Linked DNA regions of Homo sapiens: region 1 is linked to region 2. Evidence: fine-mapped expression QTL. A gene starts in region 2. The other region holds a variant in brackets. All regions are shown on one strand. Distances are between the middles of the regions. Region 1 has its middle 9.2 kb from the start of PRSS36. Region 2 holds the start of KAT8 (lysine acetyltransferase 8).

Evidence for each region. PIP is the estimated chance that this variant, and not a neighbour inherited with it, causes the effect.
Region 1: its variant is fine-mapped to the expression of KAT8 in whole blood (TOPMed, PIP 0.96).

Annotation. Positions count from the first base shown.
Region 1 is chr16:31,153,741-31,164,843 of GRCh38, reverse strand. No RefSeq gene overlaps it. Among named protein-coding and RNA genes, the nearest start is that of PRSS36, 9.2 kb to the right of the region's middle. The variant G/A (reference allele first, on the strand shown) is at 4,991.
Region 2 is chr16:31,113,017-31,124,119 of GRCh38, reverse strand. KAT8 (lysine acetyltransferase 8) reads right to left here and starts at 6,456. Exons shown (of 11, transcript NM_032188.3): 1 at 6,228-6,456; 2 at 3,860-3,934; 3 at 3,606-3,781. The coding sequence starts at 6,438. It also overlaps a transcript of BCKDK not described here. RefSeq lists an enhancer at 5,873-5,992 and silencers at 6,163-6,512, 6,412-6,638.

The sequences.
Region 1 (11,103 bases), 41 kb before region 2:
CTCAAAGAAAAAAAAAAAGCATTTTGGGGAGGGATGGCATTAGGAGAAATAACTAATGTAGATGACGGGTTGATGCGTGCAGCAAACCACCAGGGCACATGTATACCTATGTGACAAACCTGCACGTTCTGCACATGTACCCCAGAACTTAAAGTATAAATAAATAAGAATTTTGCCCTCAGCACCAGCTTGCATGGTGAAAAAAGAAAGAAGGAAAGTAAGAATTTTGCCCTAAGGCGCCTGTCTATTAGCTGTTTAGAAACCATAGAATTTAGCAACTGTTTTCTTTCTTTAGTGGAAACTTCATAAGAAATTATTTTGGAAAGTTTTGCCTACAAAATTAAAAAGGAGGCCGGGCGCGGTGGCTCACACCTGTAATCCCAATACTTTGGCAGGCCGAGGTAGGCAGATCACCTGAGGTCAGAAGTTCGAGACCAGCCTGGCCAACATGGTGAAACCCCGTCTCCATTAAAAATACAAAAATTAGGCCAGGCTCTTTGGCTAACGCCTGTAATCTCAGTACTTTGGGAGGCCGAGGCAGGCGGATCACCTGAGGTCGGGAGTTCGAGACCAACCTGGCCAACATGGTGAAGCCCCGTCTCTACTAAAAATACAAAAAAATTAGCCATGTGTGGTGGCAGGTGCTTGTAATCCCAGCTCCTCAGGAGGCTGAGGCAGGAGAATCGCTTGAACCCTGGAGGCAGAGGTTTCAGTGAGCTGAGAATGCTCCATTGCACGCCAGCCTGGGCAATGAGTGAAACTCCATCTCAAAAAAAAAAAAAAATTAACAAGATGCTGAGCATGGTGGTGCATGCCTGTAATCCCAGCAAATTAGAAAGCTGAGGTGGGAGGATGGCTTGAGCCCAGGACTTGGAGATGAGCCTGGGCAACATAGTGAGACCATCTTGCCCCCGATTTTAAAAATAATAATTAAAATAAAAAGGCTGTGGGAAAACATTATGTAATAAAGCTGGAAGATTTCCTTCTCATTTGAGAAGGGGTCTGTTTGTTTGTTTTATAGAGACGGTCTTGCTGTGTTGCCCAGGCTGGTCTGGAACTCCCAGACTCAAGCAATCCTCATGCATCAGCCTCCTGAAGTGCTGGGATTACAGGCATGAGACACCACGCCCAGCCTCAGAGGGTTTTTTAGGTTGTTTTGTTGTTTTTTTTTGTTTGTTTTGTTTTTTGACACGGAGTCTCCCTCTGTTGCCCAGGCTGGAGTGCAGTGGGGTGATCTCAGCTCACAGCAACCTCCACCTCCCAGGTTCAAGCCTCAATTCTCCTGCCTCAGCCTCCTGAGTAGCTGGGATTACAGGCATGCGCCACCACGCTTGGCTAATTTTTGTATTTTTAGTAGAGACGGGTTTTCACCATGTTGGCCAGGCTGGTCTCAAACTCCTGACCTCGTGATCCACCCACCTCGGCCTTCCAAAGTGCTGGGATTACAGGTGTGAGCCACCGCGCCCAGCTGTTTTTCTTTTTTTTTAAGACAGAGTTTTCGTTCTTGTTGCTCAGGCTGGAGTGCAATGGCACGATCTCGGCTCACTGCAAACTCTGCCTCCTGGGTTCAAGCGATTCTCCTGCCTCAGCCTCCCAAGTAGCTGGGATTACAGGCATGCACCGCCACACGCAGCTACTTTTGTATTTTTAGTAGAGATAGGGTTTCTCCATGTTGGTCAGGCTGGTCTCAAACTCTTGACCTCAGGTGATCCGCCCCCCTCAGCCTCCCAAAGTGCTGCGATTACAGGCGTGAGCCACTGCGCCCAGCCTCAGAGGGTTTTTTAACCTGATGATGCGTATCGAAATAGGAAGACATTTTTATTAGTAAATTTGACTTTAGTATTTTTAGGTGAATATGTGTTTTTTCTCCGTGGTGGCAGAAGAAGAAACACATTATCGGATCGCCAAAAAACCTAACCATGAAAGAGTGTAAAATTGGAGAAACAGATATGGTTTACTTTAGTCTACCAGGGACAATTATGTGGCTGTTTGTGTAACATAATTGTTACTTGCTACTTTTTCTGTGGCTGACGATATGCAAAACTCTCTGGGCCAGTACAAAAATTGTGCGAAATTTACCAATGGCTGGAAGCAGTGGCTCACGCCTGTAATCCCAACACTTCAGGAGGCAAAGGTGGGAGGATTCCTTGAGGCCAGGAGTTCAAGACCAGCCTCAGCAACATAGCAAGACCCCCATCTCTACAAAAAATGTAAAAACCTAGCTGGGCGTGGTGGCATCCAAGTAGTCCCAGCTACTCTGGAGGCTAAAATACAAAATTACTAAAATACGAAATACTACATTACTAAAATACAGAATTACTGAAAATACAAAATTAGCCAGGCATGGTGGCCAGGGACTGCTTCAATTTCTCTGCCTTCTCTTTGTCAATGATGACCAGGGTATAAAGGTATCTGCTGCATCGAACTTTAAACTTCACATTGTCCTTATTTTTCTTTTTTTTTCTTTTTTTTCTTTTTTTTATTTTGAGACAGAGTTTTGCTCTTATTGCCCAGGCTAGAGTGCAGTGGTGCAATCTCGGCTCACTGCAACCTCCGCCTTCCAGTTTCAAGCGATTCTTCTACCTCAGCCTCCCAAGTCGCTGGGATTACAGGTGCCCGCCACCATGTCCAGCTAATTTTTTGTATTTTTAGTAGAGACGGGGTTTCACCATGTTGGTCAGGCTGGTCTTGAACTGCTGACCTCGTGATCCACCCGCCTAGACCTCCCAAAGTGCTGGGATTACAGGCATGATCCACCGTGCCCGGCGCATTGTCCTTATTTTTCTTGATCTTGACAGATTTGGCATCCTTTTGTCGGGCTGTGAGCAGAAAGACCTTGATTTCCTCAATTTTCTGAGGCATGGCAACAAGGAACACAGGGAGCAGGCGGGGACCGGGACAGTGAGCAGCGACCAAGGAGAGCTTGAGTTTATTATAAGAGCCTAGAGCCGCCACAGAGACTTTTAAGCAGGGACAAACACTTTTTTTTCTTTTTTTGAGATTGAGTTTCACTCTTGTTGCTCAGGCTGGAGTGCAGTGGCGCGATCTCGGCTCCCTGCAACCTCCGCCTCCCAGGTTCAAGCGATTATCCTGCCTAGCCTCCCGAGTAGCTGGGATTACAGGTGCCTGCAACCACACCTGGCTAATTTTTTTTTCTTTTTCTTTTCTTTTTTTTTTTTTTCTGAGACAGAGTCTTACTCTGTTACCAGGGCTGGAGTGCAGTGGCACAATCTCAGCTCACTGCAACCTCCACCTCCCAGGTTCAAGCAGTTCTCCTGCCTCAGCCTGGGATTACAGGCGCCTGCCACTACCAAACACCCAGCTAATTTTTTGTATTTTTAGTAGAAAGGGGGTTTCACCATGTTGGCCAGGCTGGTCTCGACCTCCTGACCTCATGATTTGCCCACCTTGGCCTCCCAAAGTGCTGGGATTACAGGCGTGAGCCACCTCATCTAGCCCGGAGTTTCACTCTTGTTGCCCAGGCTGGAGTGCAATGGCGCGATCTTGGCTCACTGCAACTTCTGCCTCCTGGGTTCAAGCGATTCTCCTGTCTCAGCCTCCTTAGTAGCTGGGATCACAGGTGCCCGCCACCACTCCCAGCTAATTTTTTGTATTTTTAGAAGAGATGGTGTTTCACTATGTTGGCCAGGCTGCTCTTGAACTCCAGACCTCAGGCAATCCACCCGCCTCGGCCTCCCAAAGTGCTGGGATTACAGGCGTGAGCCACCACTCCCTGCTAATTTTTTGTACTTTTTTTTAAGTAGAGACAGGGTTTCACCATATTGGCCAGTCTGGTTTCAAACTCCTGACCTCAGATGATCACCCACCTCAGCCTCCCAAACTGTTGGGATTACAGGCGTGAGCCACCACGCCTGTCCGTGTCCCTGTGTGTTTGATTAAACTAATCTCAATGGGTTTTCATTATCTAAACAGCTTCCCCTCTCATACGCATTCTCGTTTCAGATGTTCAGAATTCAGAAAATACAAACAACCTGCAGGAGAAATGGCTGCTCAGCTTGAGTACCTGAGGTCCTGCAACACCCCACCTCCTTTGTTTTCCAGAGGGGTTCAGAAAGCTCGCTGTGCTCAGGCCTCCAAGTCAGGGCCATAAGCCTTGTTGCCTCCAGCCATGACTCAAAAACCTCGCCCTCACCCCCATCCCATCCTGACCTCCTCTCTTGCCCCCAAGAGCTCTCCCGGACCCCATACAGTTTATGCAGGAGCACCCCAAAACTGCTCCCCTCAGAAGCAGGAGGACGTCTCTCTCCCAGCAATGAGCTGCCACCTCCTCAGACTCCAACTCGGATTGTTCTCTCTGTGTCTCAGGAACCACCCTCCAAATTGCATACAATGGCCAGGCACGGTGGCTCATGCCTGTCATCCCAGCACTTTGGGAGGCTGAGGCAGGTGGATAACCTGAGCTCAATAGTTCAAGACCAGCCTGGCCAACATAGTGAAACCCCGTCTCTACTAAAAATACAAAAATTAGGGCCAGGCACGGTGGCTCACACCTGTAATCCCAGCGCTTTGGGAGGCCAAGGTGGGCGGATCACCTGAGGTTGGGAGTTCGAGACCAACCTGGCCAACATGGAGAACCCCTGTCTCTGCTAAAAAATACAAAATTAGCTGGGCGTGGTGGCACATGCCTGTAATCCCAGCTACTCGGGAGGCTGGGGCAAGAATCACTTGAACCCGGGAGGCAGAGGTTGCGGTGAGCTGAGATCATGCCATTGCACTCCAGCCTGGGCGACACAGCGAGACTCCATCTCAAAAAAAAAAAAAAATTCTATACAGTGCATCTCACAAAGTGAGGTCCCTTTGAAGTAGGGCAACTCATTTGAGGCTAAAGCGCTGAGTCCTGGGGCAATCTCTGGCTCCGACAGGCTCAGGGTACCAGCATGGTCCCTGGAGACCAAGAGGTGGGTGGGGAGGTGGGGGCAGAGTCTGGGAGTGAAATTGAAGGAGCAGTTACTCTTCTTGCCACGAGAGG[G/A]AGCACCAAGGGGATGTCTTGATCATATCAGTCAAGCGTGGAGTCAACACACAACATGTTCCCAATTTTATCAAGTCTCTCAAATATTCCCACTCAGAGGGTCCCTCATAGAATAACATTCTAACTCCAAGTTTTTTCTGAGAACAAGTTATTTCTGGCCAGGCGAAGTGGCTCATGTTTGTAATCCCAACACTTTGGGAGGCCAAGGCGGGCAGATCTCCTGAGGTCAGGAGTTCAAGACCAGCCTGGCCAACAGGGTGAAACCCCGTCTCTAAAATACAAAATTGTAAAATACAATTTTGTATTTAAAATACAATACTCTATCGTATTTAAAATACTCCAGAATACAAAATTGTAAAAATACAAAATTAGCTGGGAGTGGTGGTATACACCTGTAATCCCAGCTACTGGGGAGGCTGAGGCAGGAAAATCACTTGAACCCAGGAGGTGGAGGTTGCAGTGAGCCAAGATCGTGCCATTGCACTCTAGCCTGGGCAACAAGAGCAAAACTCCGTCTCAAAAAAAAAAAAAGTTATTTCTTCCAAGCAGATATGCAACAATATAGTGACTTAGCAAGATAATATTATGGAATAGGGAACAGGGTTGCCAGGTTTAGCAAAAAATTTTATTTTACTCCTTTTTTATTTTACAAAAAAATTTTGTACAAACGGGGTCTATGTTACGTTGCCCAGGCTGGTCTCGAACTCCTAGACTCAAGTAATCCTCACACCTCAGCCTCCTGAAGTGCTGGGATTATAGGCATGAGCCACCACTCCCAACCAGATTTAGCAAATAAAATAAGTGCCCGATTAAATCTGAATTTCAGGTAAACACAAATAATTTTTTTTTAAGACAGGGTCTTGCTCTGTCACCCAGGCTGGAATGCAATGGTGCAATCATAGCTCACTGCAGTTTCGAACTCCTGGTCTCAAGTGATCCTCCTGCCTCAGCCTCCCAGACCACTGGGATTACAGACGTGAGCCCTGTGCCTATTGGAAACACAAATAATTTTTTTTTGAGATAGGGTCTGGTTCTGTTGCCCAGGCAGGAGTGCAGTGGCATGGCTCACTGCAACCTCTGCCTCCTGGGCTCAAGCCATCCTCCCACCTCAGCCTCCCAAGTAGCTCCCAAGTGCACACCACCACATCCAGCTATTTTTTTTTTTTTTTGAGACGGAGTCTCGCTCTGTCACCCAGGCTGGAATGCAGGGGCGCTATCTCAGCTCACTGCAAGCTCTGCCTCCTGGGTTCGCGACATTCTCCTGCCTCAGCCTCCCGAGTAACTGGGACTACAGGTGCCCGCCACCATGCCCGGCTAATTTTTTTGTATTTTCTTTTTAGCAGAGACGGGGTTTCACTGTGTTAGCCAGGATGGTCTCAATCTCCTGACCTCGTGATCCGCCCGCCTCAGCCTCCCAAAGTGCTGGGACCACAGGCTTGAGCCACCACGCCTGGCCCACATCCAGCTAATTTTTTAAAAAACTCTTTGTAGAGATGGGGTCTCACTATATTGCCCAGGCTGATCTTAAACTCCTGAGCTCAAGCAGTCCACCTGCCTCAGCCTCCCAAAGTGCTGGGATTACAGGTGTGAGCCACTTCACTTGGCCCGACAAATAATTTTCAATATAACTCAAGTATTTCCTGAGACCTAGTTATAGTAAAAAAAAAAAAAATCGTTTATCTCAAATTCAGACTGAGCTAAGTATTCTGTATTTTAGCAGGCACTCCAAAAGGAGTGACACGTGCTTTAAGAGTTTTATACACCAGCTGGGTGTGGTGGCTCACGCCTATAATCCCAGCACTTTGGGAGGCTGAGGCGGACAGATCACCTGAGGTCAGGAGTTGGAGACCAGCCTGCCCAACATGGCGAAACCCCATCGCTATTAAAAATACAAAAAAATTAGCCGGGCATGGTGGTGGACACCTGTAATCCTAGCTACTCAGGAGGCTGAGGCAGGAGAATCACTTGAACCCGGGAGGCAGAGGTTGCAGTAAGCTGAGATCGCAACACTGCACTCCAGCCTGGGGGACAAAAGCAAAACTCCGTCTCAAAAAAAAAAAGAGTTTTACAAACCAAATGTTTGCAGTGGCTGCGCTCACGCCTGTAATCCCAACACTTTAAGAGACTGAGACGGGTGGATCACTTGAGGTCAGGAGTTCAAGATTAGCCTGGCCAACATGATGAAACCCTGTCTCTACTAAAAATACAAAAATTCGCTGGGCATGATGGTGGGCACTTGTAATTCGAGCTACTTGGGAGGCTGAGGCAGGAGAATCACTTGAACCCAGGAGGCAAAGGCTGCAGTGAGTGGAGATTGCACCACTGCACCCCAGCCTGAGCAACAGAGTGAGACTCCGTCTCAAATAAAAAATGAAAATAAAATGCAGCTTTCTCTGTCATGGCACCCATTCTGGTGTGCATGAGGACAGACAGCCCAGATTATTTTTCGAGGAGACATGTGGCCCTGCCCACAGTATATTCCACAGAACAGCCCTGACCAGAAGTGGAGTGACTCCCAGCTTCTGGCTTCCTCTTTTCACGATGAGATGCGGCACTGCTGGGCTTCGCTGGTGTGGAGCGCGTGCGGCTGTGTGCTTGAGCTGTGAAACAGTCTTCTGCTCCCTCTGGTCAGCACCTTTGGAAAGTGTGGTGAGAGCAACAATACTATCAAGGATTATCTGAAGAATGCCTTTTTTTGTAGGTCAGTGATAACCAGACATTTTAGTGACAAAGCCAATTCAGAAAAAAAGTAACCTGTTACCAAAATCCTTTAAAAAACATGATCTCTTTTATCAGGAAACATAATATCAACATCTTTGGTTAAGCATGCTTTTCTTGTTTTTCCAAATGCTGAAGGGTTTCATTATTTTAGCTAAGCTTTCAGAAACAACATTACACACATGCCCTGGTGTTATCGGATGTAAAGCTGCACATTTTCCCAACGTTTTTGGTCCAGGAAAGCATTTCTGGAGCTAGTTCGTTTGGCTTTTTCTTAATTGACTCTGGAATCCATTTATTTGCAAAGTGTGTTTTGCCTCTTTTAATTTCTTTTTACTCATGTGGAATAACCATATAGTTTTTTTTTTCTTTCCTTCTTTCTTTCTTTTCTTTTCTTTTTTTTTTTTTTTTCTTTTTTGAGACAGAGTCTCGCTCTGTCACCCAGGCTGGAGTGTAGTGGTGCAATCATAGCTCGTTGCAGCCTCGACCTCCTGGGCTTAAGTGAACCTTCTACCTCAGCCCGAGTAGCTGGGACTACAGGTGCATGCCACCATGCCTGGCTAATTTTTATTTTATTTTATTTATTTTGGGGACGGAGTTTTGCTCTTGTTGTCCAGGCCGGAGTGTAATGGCACGATCTCAGCTCACTGCAACCTCTGCCTCCTGGATTCAAGTGATTCTCCTGTTTCAGCCTCCCAGGTAGCTGGGATTATAGTCATGCACCACCATGCCCAGCTAATTTTGTATTTTTTTTTTTTTTTTAGTAGAGACAGGGTTTCACTGTGTTGGTCAGGTTGGTCTTGAACTCCCAACCTCAGGGGATATACCCGCCTTGGCCCCACAAAGTGCTGGGATACAGGTGTAAACTTTTTTTTTTTTTTTTTTTTTTAGAGATGGGGTCTCATTATGCTGCCCAAGCTAGTCTCAAAACTCCTGGGCTCAAGAGATCCTCCCACCTCAGCATCTCTAGCTAAGTTCATAGAGAGTCCTGATCTTAAGGGTACGGCTCAGTGAAACTCTGCATGTGTATATTCCTGTGTATATACACACCTACATCAAGATCTAGAACTTTCTTGCACTCTAGCAAGTTTCTCTGTGCTCCTTCCCACATAATATAATACTTCCACCAGAAGCAACCACTATTCTGATTCCTTTTTTTTTTTTTTTTTTTTTTTGAGATGGAATCTTGCTCTGTCACCCAGGCTGGAGTGCAGTGGTGCTATCTCGGCTCACTGCAACCTCCGCTTCCCAGGTTCAAGCGATTCTTCTGCTTCAGCTTCCTGAGTAGCTGGGATTACAGGCATGTGCCACCACACCCGGCTAATTTTTGTGTTTTAGTAGAGACAGGGTTTCACTGTGTTGGCTAGGCTGGTCTTGAACTCCTGACCTCAAGTGATCCGCCTGCCTCAGCCTCCCAAAGTGCTGGGATTACAGGTGTGAGCCACCGTGTCCGGCCACTATTCTGACTTCTACCACTGGGGATTAGTTATGCTTGTTCCTAAATTGCATATAATTGGAATCATGCAATATGACACATATTTGTTGAAAAAAAAATCTGTAAGATTCATCCATGTTGTTGCAGATATCAGTAATTCATTCTTTTTTATTGCTGCATAGTATTTCAGTGTATGACTATGCCACAATTTATCAATTTTCCTGGGGCCGGACATTTATGTTCTGGATCTTGGCTCTTGTATCTAGACCTTCTATGAGTGCCATGCTCTGCATATGCCTTATGGCACCCTCATTTCTCTTAGGTCTATACCTAGGATCTTGATTGTTGGGTCAAAATACAGGCATATGTTTAGCTTTCGTCTATTCTGCCAGTTATCTTTTCTTAATTTTTATTTTTAGGAATAGAGATGAAGTTTTCACTATGTTTTCCAGGCTGGTCTCAAGCTCCTGAGCTCAAGTGATGCTCTCGCCTCAGCCTCCCAAAGTGCTGGGATTACAAGGCATGAGCCACTGCGCCTGGTCTTTTTTTTTTTTTTTTTTTTTGAGACGGAGTCTCACTCTGTCGCCCAAGCTGCAGTGCAGTGGTGTGATCTCAGCTCATTGCAACCTCCGCCTCCCAGGTTCAAGCGATTCTCCTGCCTCAGCCTCCCGAGTAGCTGAGATTACAGGCGCCTGCCACCATGCCCGGCTAATTTTTTGTATTTTTAGTAGAGACGTGCCTAAGTTTTGTAATTTTAGTAGAGACGGGGTTTCACTGTGTTGGCGAGGCTGGTCTCGAACTCCTGACCTCAAGTGATCTGCCCACCTCAGCCTCCCAAAGTGCTGGGATGGATTACAGACGTGAGCCACCACACCCGGCCCCGTGCCAGACTTCTAATCTTTGAAATTGTAACATAATAAGTTGGTATTGTTTTAATCCACTGAGTATATGGGAATTTGTTACATCAGCAATGGAAAACTAATATACTAGTTCACCTATCATTTCCCCCTCCACTAGTCAGACCAGTAGAGAACTGCGTATGTATCACCTTTCTTACCCAGAGGCACCACCCACATATCCTTATTTTATTGACTGTGGTTTGTTTATGGTGTCATAGGCTGAAATTAAGCAGCACTATAAAAATCAACCTTAGGCATGGTGACACATGCCTGGAGTCCCAGCTACTCAGGAGACTGACATGGGAGAATCGATTGAGCCCAGGAGCTCGAGGCTGCAGTGAGCTATGACCATGCCACTGCACTCCAGCCTGGGTGACAGAGTGAGTCTCCATCTCTAAAAAAAAAAAAAGGCTGGGCATGGTGGTTCATGCTTGTAATCCCAGCACTTTGTGAGGCCAAGGCACGCAGATCACCTTAGGTCAGGAATTTGAGACCAGCCTGGCCAACATGGTGGAAACCCGTCTCCACTAAAAATACAAAATTAGCAGGGCATGGTGGTGGGCTCCTGTAATCCCAGCTACCCGGGAGGCTGAGGCAGGAGAATCACTTAAACCTGGGAGGTGGAGGTTGCAGTGAGCCGTGATCATGCCATTGCACTCCAACCTGGGCAAAAAGAGCGAAACATCATCTCAAAAAAAAAAAAAAAAAAAAAAAAAAAACCTCATGAAACTATTTGCTGTTTTTCACATGATGTTGTTAAGAAAGATTTTATTATACCCAAGTAAAGAGACATGATCTCCCAACCAGAATGGACTCGAACTCCTGGGCCCAAGGGATCCCCCCACCTCAGCCTCCAGAGTAGCAGGGACTACAGGCATGCACCGGCACACCTGGCTCCTCCAAGGAGAAATTTATTTTCTGTCCTTGAACCTGGAAGAGAGAGACTCCTGCTTGAGCTTCCCTCCTTACCTTGGCTGCTAGTTGCAATCAAGGGCATCTTAGAGTGGTGAAACCATAAGAATCACCTGGGCAGCTTTTGCAAACTGCACTTGCTCCTCCAG
Region 2 (11,103 bases):
CTCACAAAATACAGTACTCTTCTGCAAATGCAATAAAGAACTACAAAAACACTACTTTTCTTAATTGTTGCAATTTATTTAGAATTAAACATTAATTAGGCTCTGAAGAACCTTGCTGATTGTTAACTGGATGATTGTTTCATTACCTATTCTTTGATTTTATCACCACTGGCCCGTTATCCACCCTGCTGGTTGCCAACTCAGAGGTATGTCTTTGTTGAGTGCAAAACAGTTGAGGAATTAATCTTAGATCTACACTGTCCAATAAAGTAGCCACTTGTCACATAGGGCTATTTAAAATTATACTCAGCTAAACGTGGTGGCTCACGCCTGTAATCCCAGCACTTTGAGAGGCCGAGGTGGGAGGACCACTTGAGGCCAGGAGTTCCAGACCAGTCTGGCCAACATGGCGAAACCCCATCTCTACTAAAAATAAAAAATAAAAAATAGCTGGGTGTGGTGGCACACGCCTGTAATCTCAGATACTTGGGAGGCTGAGGCACAAAAATTGCTTAAGCCAGGAAGGCGGAGGTTGCAGTAACCCAAGAGCTCGCCACTGTACTCCCGCCTAGGTGACAGAGTGAGACTCTGTCTCAAAAAATGAAAATTTTGGCTGGGCACGGTGGCTCACACCTGTAATCCCAGCACTTTGGGAGGCCGAGGCAGGCGGATCAGTTGAGGTCAGGAGTTTGAGGCCAAACATAGTGAAACCCTATCTCTACTAAAAATACAAAAATTAGCCAGGCATGATGGTGCGTGCCTGTAGTCCCAGCTACTTGGGAGGCTGCGGCAGGAAACTCACTTGAATCTGGGAGGCGGAGGTTGCAGTGAGCTGAGATCGCACCACTGCACTCCAGCCTGGTTAACAGAGTGAGACTCTGTCTCGAAAAAATAAAAATAAAATTTTTTTAAAAAATGATAATTAATTTTTTTTTGAGACAGTCTTGATCGGACACCCAGGCTGGATGGAGTGCAGTGGCATGATCTTGGCTGACTGCAACCTCCATCTCCTGGGCTCAAGCGATTCTCCTGCCTCAGCCTCCTAAGTAGCCGGGATTACAGGTGTGCACCACCACGCCCGGCTAATTTTTGTATTTTTAGTAGAGATGGGGTTTTGGCCATGTTGGCCAGGCTGGTCTCAATCCCCTGACCTTAAGTGATCCACCCACCTCCGCCTCCCAAAGTGTTGGGATTACAGGCGTGAGCCACTGCACCCATAATTTAAAAATTTTTTTTTTTTTGAGACGGAGTCTCACTCTGTCACCCAGGCTGGAGTGAGCCCAGGATCTCGGCTCACTACAAGCTCCACCTCCCGGGTTCACGCCATTCTCCTACCTCAGCCTCCCGAGTAGCTGGGACTACAGGTGCACGCCACCACGCCCGGCTAATTATTTTGTATTTTTCAGTAGAGATGGGGTTTCACCATGTTAGCCGGGATGGTCTCGATCTTCTGACCTGGTGATCCACCCACCTTGGCCTCCCAAAGTGCTGGGATTACAGGCGTAAGCCACCGCGCCCAGCTAAAATTCTTAATTCTTCGTCACACTAGACACATTTCAAGTGCTCAACAGCTACATGTGGCTAGTGGCTACGGTACTAGATAGTACAGCTATAGAACATTTCCATTACAATAGGAAGTTCGATTCGGCAGTTTAGACCTTGAGGAGTTCTTCCAGTTTAGGGTATTTCAATTTTTTAAATCACACCACAGTAGGAAGTACACTTGGCACTGTAACATGTCTGTATATACACACAAGTATGTGCTAGGATCATCGGGAAGGTAAGGCTGGAACAAGAGGAATCCTGCACACTTTTATTGGGTGTGAAATAAAAGCTTCTCAAAACAATACCTACACTTAATAAAGTGCAACACCCTGATTTTTCTATCTTATCCACTTTCTTTCTTCCATTTAAAGAAATTTAAATGTTGGGCTTGCCCACTAACTCATGTACTCAGAAGGATGAAGCTGCAATAGCTGAAAGTAACAAATGTCTGGGTGTCTGGAGACTTTGACAAATCTTGCTCTGGTGTGCACTCCTGATTTTTATAAATTTAGAAACTGAGACTTGGTCGGGCGCAGTGGCTCACACCTGTAATCCCAGCACTTTGGGAGGCTAAGGCAGGAGGATCGCTTGAGACCAGGAGTTTGAGACTAGTGTGGGCAACATAGCAGATCCCGTCTCTACAAAAAAATAAAAAATTAGCTGGGCATGGTGGCACGTGCCTATGGTCCCAGCTACTCAGGAGGCTGAGGCAGGAGGATTGCTTGAGCCCAGGAGGTTGAGGCTGAAGTGAGCCATGATTGTGCCACTGCACTCAGCCTAGACGATAGAGTAAGACGCTGTCTCAAAAAAAAAAAATAACAATAATATGTACAATTATTAAGTATCAATACAAGAAAAAACCAAGGCAGGTACAGGGATGCACTCCTGTAGTCCCAGCTACTTAGAAGGCTAAGGCAGGAAGAACATTTGAGCCCAGGAGTTCAAGTCCAGCCTGAGCAACACACCAAGACTCCCGTCTCTTAAGAAAAAAACCAAAATCATTGCTAAGGCCTCTGGCTCTGAGGTAGCACAATTTAGCTGGTTGATCAAATTCCTGTCTGGGTCCCTAAACTTATCTGTAGCTCTTCTGCATGCTTACTTCACAGGCCTACTGTGAAATGTCAGTGAGGTCATGTATTAAAACACTTAGCTTAGGCCGGGCGCAGTAGCTCACGCCTGTAATCCCAGCACTTTGGGAGGCCGAGGTGGGCAGATCACCTGAGGTCAGGAGTTCGAGACCAGCCTGACCAATATGGCGAAACCTCGTCTCTACTAAAAATACAAAAATTATCCGGGCGTGGTGGCAGGTACCTGTAGTCCTAGCTACTTGGGAGGCTGAGACAGGAAAATTGCTTGAACCCAGGTGGCGGAGTTTACAGTGAGCCGAGATCATTCCACTGTACTCCAACCTGGGCGACAGAGCAAGACTCCGTCTCAAAAAAAAAAACAAAAAACAAAACACACACACACACACACACACACACACACAAAAACCATTTAGCTGAATACTTCTGCTCACCGGCTAACAAGTGTTTGGCATTATTATTCTAATTCCAGCCCACCGTTTTACTGGCTGTGTGACCTTGGGCATGTTACTTAATCTCTCTCAGCCTGCTTCCTCACCTACCAAAAAAGTAACTATTCCTGTGTGTTGAATTGTTGGGAAGGATTTGAGGAGCTTATACATATACAGCACTTGGCAGGGTGCTTGGCTATAGCAACTGCCGAATAACATTCTCGTCTTTCCCACTGAACTTCAAGTCATTTTTTCTACTAAGACACAGCTACTAGGAGACAAAAGAGGCTACCAGTGCCGGAGGCCTGAGTTCTAGTCCCAGCTGTGCCATTTCCTTGCTGTGAGACTGCAGCGAAGCCCTTACCCTCTGTCTGTTTTCTTACCTATGAAAAGTAAGTAAGAGGAAGTAGGTAAAGTCCCTGACACACTACAGGAGCTTAAGAAATGGGATTTGCTATGGTTTTGGCACTGGGGCCCGAGAGACCCAAGGGAACTGGCAGAGAAGCTGGGCCTCCTGGGCCCGTGGATGGGAAGGGATCCGGACCTTCTGCACATGGTTGATCTCATCATGCTTGCGCTTTTGGTTGCGAGTGATCTTGCGCTCAGGCTGCTCTGCGAGCTCGCTCAGGTACTTCTCTGAGTTCTTCTGTACAGCATCCTTCACTGTCTTGGTCAGCGCCAGCCGGTTCTTGTCTACCCACTCGTCCAGCCGCCGGTTAACTGTAAGTATGGGCCATAAGAGTGCTGCCAGGGCAGCCAACTCCCTGCACCCACGCCCAGATGTGCCAAGCCACTCACAGCCCACGTAGTGTACATAGAATTCCTCTCGGCCCTCCTGGTCGTTCACTCGAGACTGGATCACTTCAGCAGAATCTGTGATGGAAAAAGGCTAGGGTCATCAGGAAGGTAAGGCTGGAACAAAAGGAATCCTGCACACTGAGAAGCAGTTTCCAGAGTTCAGGGCCACACATCAGCTAACCTCACTGGTCCACCTCTGCCATTCTACTCAATCACTGCCACAACTGTGAGGTGGATCAGGTTGAGGCTGTTATTCTCATTTTACGAATGAGAAAATAACTGGCTGGGTGTGTGGCTCACACCTGTAATCCCAGTACTTCTGGAGGCCGAGATGGGCAGATCACTTGAGGCCAGGAGTTTGAGACCAGCCTGGTCAACATGGCAAAACCCCATCTGTACCAAAAAGACGAAAAAAAAAAAAGCCAGGCATGGTGGCACACACCTGTAATCCCAACTACTCGGGAGGCTGAGGCAGGAAAATTGCTTGAACCTGGGAGGCAAGGCTGAGGCAGGAGAATTGCTTGAACCCGGGAGGCAGAGGTTGCAGTGAGCCGAGATTGTACCACTGCACTGTGGCCTGGGTGACAAGAGCAAGACTCTGTCTCAAAAAAAAGAACCCCAAAAAACAGAACAAAACTGAGGCTTACCTAGGGTCACAGATTTGAAAAGTGGTAAGAGCTAATACTTAACTGAATTTAAGTCTGACTCTAAATTCAATGCTCATTTTACCACATACCCGCAGTTGTTCATTTGTTCAGGGATCATGAGTGCTGGCTCTGGATTAAGATAACCTACATTAATGTATAATTCCAGGGCTGGGCATCGTGGCTCACGCCTGTAATCCCAGCACTTTGGGAGGCCGAGGTGGGTGAATCACGAGGTTAAGAGGTCAAAACCATCCTGGCCAACATGGTGAAACTTCGTCTCTACTAAAAATACAAAAATTAGCTGGGTGTGGTGGCGCACAACTGTAGTCCCAGCTACTCAGGAGGTTGAGGCAGGAGAATCGCTTGAATCCGGGAGGCAGAGATCGCAGTGAGCCAAGATGGCGCCACTGCACTCCAGCCTGGCAACAGAGAGCGATTCCATCTCAAACAAACAAACAAAAAAAAATACACAAAATTCCAGCTCCCTACTTCCTAGCTATGTGTAACTGAGCAAGTTATTCCATCTTTCTGAGCCTCAGTCTCTTCATCTGTGAAAAGGGATAACAGCTGGGCACAGTGGCTCATGCCAGTAATCCCAACACTCTGAGAGGGTGAGGTGGGAGGATCACTTGAGCCTAGAAGGTCTAGGCTTCAGTGAGCTGTCATCGTGCCACGGCAATCCCACCTGGGTGACAGAGCGAGATCCTGTCTCAAAAAAAAAAAAAAAAAAAAAGACAAAAGGGATAATAGTACCAACCTTAGAAGGTGAATTAATGCCTCCAAAATTTTTAGCAGCGCACCTGACAATTAGCAGAGCATTCAATAAATGAGTAAGGCAACCACTACGTGTCTGGCCCTATGCTGTGTTGTTGCCGGGTACAGAGGACACAGTGATGAATCACAAGAAGTGCTGCCCTCCAGAAGTTCCCAGTATGATGGAGGAAGACAGAGAGAGAAAATTACAACATAATGTTACAAAAACTATGACTGAGGTAGGAAAAAAATGTTGCAGGAACATAGAGAAGGGAACCACTCACTTTGCCTGAAGGGGAATCAAGGATGACATCACAAAGGATATGAAGCTAAGAGGATGAGTAGGAGCTAGGCAGGCAAACAAGGAGAAAGGGAAGAAAAAGCATTCCAAGCAAAGGGCACAGGTGGTAAAGGGCGTGTGGTCTTCAGAGGGCACAGTGTGTTCTGGCCTGGCAATGCCCTTTCCTAGTGTTGGCTAGAAACTGGAGAGGTCACAAAAATGAATGCCACCCTAAGGAGTTTGGGGTTAATTTTGAAAATGAGAGAAGGCAGCAGAACTTTAGGAAAGGGAAGCCTGTTGTTTCTGGAAGGTCTTCTCTCTGCGGATGGCTGCCAGGGACAAATGGAAAAAGAAGACGCAGAGACAAGAGAGGGTGAGGAAGCAGCGTTAGCAAGAAAAAGGAATGAAGCCTAAGACTGGGCAAGGAAGTGGAATGGGAACAATCCTGGTGAAGGCCTGAGCGGTGGGTTTGTAGGCGTCGCTCGGCATAATTCAAGGTCAACAGCCTCCCACAACCCGGCTGGTTTCTCAGCGCCCGGAACGCGGCGTTCTTTCCTCAAGCCCCGCCCCTCCTCCTCTCCACTCCCAGCCCCCGGATCTTGGCCTCACTGACAGCCTGTCCTCAGGCCCCGCCCCACCCCCTGGCCCTGAGCTCCGCCCCGCCCCCAGCCCTGGGCCCCGCCCTCACGCCAGGTGCTATCCGGTCGCCGGCACAGGTACGTTTCTCCGATCTCCACCGTGACTTCCGGCTCGCCGCGCGCCGGGGTCGGCGGAGAGACGCGGCCCGGGGATGGGGCGGTCCCCTCAGCGGCCGCATTCTCCCCGGGCCCGGGCTCGCCCTCCCCCGCGACCCCTGAAGTCCCCGCCGCAACCGCCGCAGCAGCTCCCTGTGCCGCCATCGCGGGAAGGGAAGTGACGCCAGAATCGGACGCCACGCAGTTCTTTTGGCTCCGGGTCAGCAGTGCGTGGGGCGGGCTCCTCAAGGTTTGAGGGCGGGGTCTGTGATGTAGCAGGAGCCGATTGGCTTCTGTGGCCGTCCCCGCGGCCCCGCGAGTTGGATGTTGAGTGTGCGGCAGTCTTGGAGCTCCTGGTTTTCCGTGCGGACCTGTGGCTGCAGCCTATGGGTGAGGAGAGGAGACAGACTTACCTCATGCGATGACTCAACTCAACCTTTTTTTAATTTATTTATTTATTTATTTATTTATTTATTTTGAGACGGAATCATGCTCTGTCGCCCAGGCTGGAGTGCAGAGGCGCGATCTCGGCTCACTGCAACCTCCGCCTCCGGGTTCAAGCGATTCCTCTGCCTCAGCCTCCCGGGTAGCTGGGACTGCAGGCGCGCGCCACCACGCCCATCTAATTTTTGTATTTTTAGTAGAGACGGGGTTTCACCATGTTGTCCAGGATAGTCTTGATCTCTTGACCTCGTGATCTGCCAGCCTCAACCTCCCAAAGTGCTGGGATTATAGGCGTGAGCCACCGTGCCCGGCCAGCTGAACCTTTTTAAAGGCCCTGGTACCTGCGGAAGCCAAGATGTGCCAATTTTCAGCGGGCGCTGCCCCCACTTTAACAGGGCAGAGCCAGAGCGGCCGCCCTGGTGGCCTGGAGCCGCACACTCGCGCTGGCCTAATGTCGCTCCCCGCCCCCCCCCCTTTTTTTTTTTTGAGATGGAGTCTCGCTCTGTCGCCCAGGCTGGAGTGCAGTGACGCGATCTCGGCTCACTGCAGCCTCCGCCTCCCGGGTTCAAGCGATTCTCCTGCCTCAGCCTCCTGAATAGCTGGGATTACAATCGCGCGCCACCACGCCCGGCTATTTTTTGTATTTTTAGTAGAGAGAGGGCTTCACCCTGTTGGCCAGGCTGGTCTCGAACTCCTGACCTCAGGTGATCCGCCCGCCTCGGCCTCCCAAAGTGCTAGGGTTACAGGCGTGAGCCACCGTGCCCAGCCAGTGCCCCATTTTTGAAGGTTGAAGAGACTACTTCCCCTATTTGGGATACAGTTGGTGCGGGGAAAGCAGAACGGGTGTGTCCAGGGACAGGCCATAATTCACCCTCACAGGATAAAGTCTAAAGAAAGGACGAGTTGGGCGGGGCGTGGTGGCTCACGCCTGTAATCTCAGCACTTTGAGAGGCCGAGGCGGGCGGAGATCGAGACCATCCTGGCTAACACCGTGAAACTCCGTCTCTACTAAAAATACAAAATTTAGCCGGGCGTGGTGGCACGCACCTGTAGTCCCAGCTACTCGGGAGGCTGAGGCAGGAGAATCGCTTGAACCCGGGAGGCGGAGGTTGCAGTGAGCCGAGATCCCGCCATTGCACTCCAGCCTGGGGACCAAGAGCCAGACTCCATCTCAAAAAAAATAAAAAGGCCGGGTGCGGTGGTTCACGCCTGTAATCCCAGCACTTTGGGAGGCCTAGGCGGGTGGATCACGAGGTCAGAAGATCGAGACTATTCTGGCTAACACGATGAAACTCCGTCTCTACTAAAAAAAAATACAAAACAATTAGCCGGGCGTGGTGGCGGGCCCCTGTAGTCCCAGCTACTCGGGAGGCTGAGGCAGGAGAATGGTGTGAACCCGGGAGGTGGAGCTTGCAGTGAGCTGAGATCACGCCACTGCACTGAGGGTTCTGTGAGAGTCAGTAAAGGTTAAAGCCATTTATATGTGTATGGTCCAACCATACACAATCGGCCCTCCATATCCGCATGTCCCACCTTTGGAGATTGAACGAAGAGCGGGTTGAAAATACAGTGTTGAGGTATGGTGGCTCACACCTGTAATCTCGCACTTCAGGAATCCAAGCAGGAGGATCGCTTCAGGCCAGGAGTTCAAGACCAGCCTGGGCAGCATAGAGACCTCCTTTCTACTAAAAATTTGGGGGAAAAAAAAAATTAGCTGGGCCTCGGGGCCCGCACCTGTAGTCCCACCTACTCAGGAGGCTGAGGCAGAGGGATCGCTTAAACCCAGGAGGTCGAGGCTGAGTGAGCTATAATCCCTCCACTGCACTCCAGCTTGGGTGACAGAGACCCTGTCTCAAAAAAAAAGGGGGGAAAGAAAAGGAGGCTGGGCGCAGTGGCTCACTCCTGTAATCCCACCACTTTGGGAGGCCGAGGCAGGCAGATCACCTGAGGTCGGGAGTTCGAGACCAGCCTGACCAACATGGAGAAACCCCATCTCTACTAAAAATACAAAATTAGCCAGGCGTGGTGGCCGCATGCCTGTAATCCCAGCTACTCGGGAGGCTGAGGCAGGAGAACCGCTTGAACCTGGGAGGCAGAGGTTGTGGTGAGCTGAGATTGTGCCATTGCACTCCAGCCTGGGCAACAAGAGTGAAACTCTGCCTCAAAAAAAAAAAAAAAAAGACTGGGCGCGGTGGCTCACACCTGTAATCCCAGCACTTTGGGAGGCCGAAGCAGGTGGATTACTTGAGGTCAGGAGTTCAAAACCAGCTTGGCCCACATTGTGAAACCCCGTCTCTACTGAAAATACAAAACAGTCAGGGGTGGTGGCGTGTGCCTGTAATCCCAGCTACTTGGGAGGCTGAGGCAGGAGAACTGCTTGAACCCAGGAGGTGGAGGTTGCAGTGAGCCGAGATCGCGCCACTGCACTCCAACCTGGCCGACACAACAAGACTCCATCTCAAAAAAGAAAAAGAAAAAAGAGGGAGGAAGGGAGGAAAAGAAAAGGAAAGGAAAGGAAATATTGTAAGGATGCAGAACCCACAGATCTGAAGAGCTGACTTCATATCTGCTGTTTGGCAGGGCCAACTGTAGGACTTGAGCGCCTGCAGATTTCGGTATTCACAGGCGGTCCTGGAACCAATCCCCAGCAGTTAAGCATGTATAACTATCAATCATATAACTATGTAACGGTTGAACTATCCGTCTTAGCAATATACAAGTGTATTGCAAAGTGCCAGACCGGGTAGGTACTCAGTAAACATTCCCTTTGGCTATTCTCTGAATCTTGTTTGATTTATAATGTGGTTATTGGGCTTGGAAACAATTCTGAGAGGAGTGGAATGCTCAGGGCCTGCGGATGGGTCTCTCAGAGGTTACAAATCAAGAAACATCCGACAGGCATGGTGGCTCATGCCTGTAATCCTGGCACTTTGGGAGGCTGAGGTGGATGGATCACGAGGTTGGGAGTTCGAGACCAGCCTGGCCAACGTGGTGAAACCCCATCTCTACTAAAAATAGAAAAATTAGCTGGGTGTGGTGGCACGCGCCTGTAATCCCAGCTACTCGGGAGGCTGAGGCAGGAGAATCGCTTGAACCTGGGGTTGGGGGGGGGTGGGGCGGAGGTTGCAGTGAGCGAAGATCCAGCCACTGCACTCCAGCCTGAGCAACAGATTGAGACTCCGTTTAAAAAAACAAAACGAAACAAAACAAACAAAAAAACAATGTAGGTGCTCCACCCAGATCCTCTGGGAGTTCTTGCTGTTTCTGTGTGCCCAGATTACCTTTGATGTGCTTTCAAAGACCCACACCAGCACCTGAGGCTCTTCTTAAAAAACCATCCTTAGGTTAATAGAGCTGTTCACTTTCCCAACTGACTTTAACCAGTGACTGCCAAGTGGAGAAATTAATCAGTAACTCTGAGGTTTAGCTCTCTTACCTTCAACCCTGAGGCATAATTGACTGGTTCTGGGCTTTTGCCTGAGGTCACATCCTTGCTTGGCTTCCTCCCCTTCCCCTTCCTACTTCCCCTACTCTGTTCTGGGAGCACTTTCTTAAGAAATCACGTGGACATGAATCCTCTCAGGGACTCCAACCAGAAACATCCCTTCCCAGCTCAAAACCCACTCATGGGCCAGCTGCAGTGGCTCATGCCTGTAACCCCACCACTTTGGGAGGCTGGGGTGGAAGGATCATTTGAGCCCAGAAGTTCAAGTCCAGCCCGGGGCAACATAGGGCTTTGTAGAAACCCTGTTTCTACAAAAAATTTTAAAATTTAGCCTGGCATGATGGTCCAAGCTACTCAGAAGGCTGAGGTGGGAGAATCTCTTGATCCCAGGAGTTCAAGGCTGCAGTGAACTCTGCAGCCACCATATTCCAGCCTGGGCAACAGAGCAAGACCCCATTTCTAAATAAATAAAAACTCACCCATGGATCCCTATGGCTCAAGATAAATCCCATGTTTCAGGGCCCTGGCCTCTGACTGCTGCCTGCCTCTCCAGCCTCAGCACCCTGCCTTGCAGCTGGCGGGATTTTTCAGTCTAGCAAGTCACTGTGGTTTCCTAGCCCCTGCCATTTGGCTTCCACATACAACTTCCCCTCCATCCCCGTGAAGGGTAGGAGATGGTACAGGCCTAGAGCCAGCCTCAGGAAGTTTGCTGTGGGAGCTCACATGTGAAGGCAAGAGAACTTTCCAGTTCTCCTCCCAGCCCCACCAGGCCGCCCTTAGGCCTTTCTTCCCTGGCAAGGTGGGTAGGGTGTTCCTACCTAAGATGTCATCTGGAGTTCTGATTCAGGTCTAACCTTGAGCCTACCTGATATCTTTGCCCAAATCCTTGGTCCTTTCTATCAGGGCCCCACCTTTCCTTGCAGTGGGGCACCCAGTCCCTG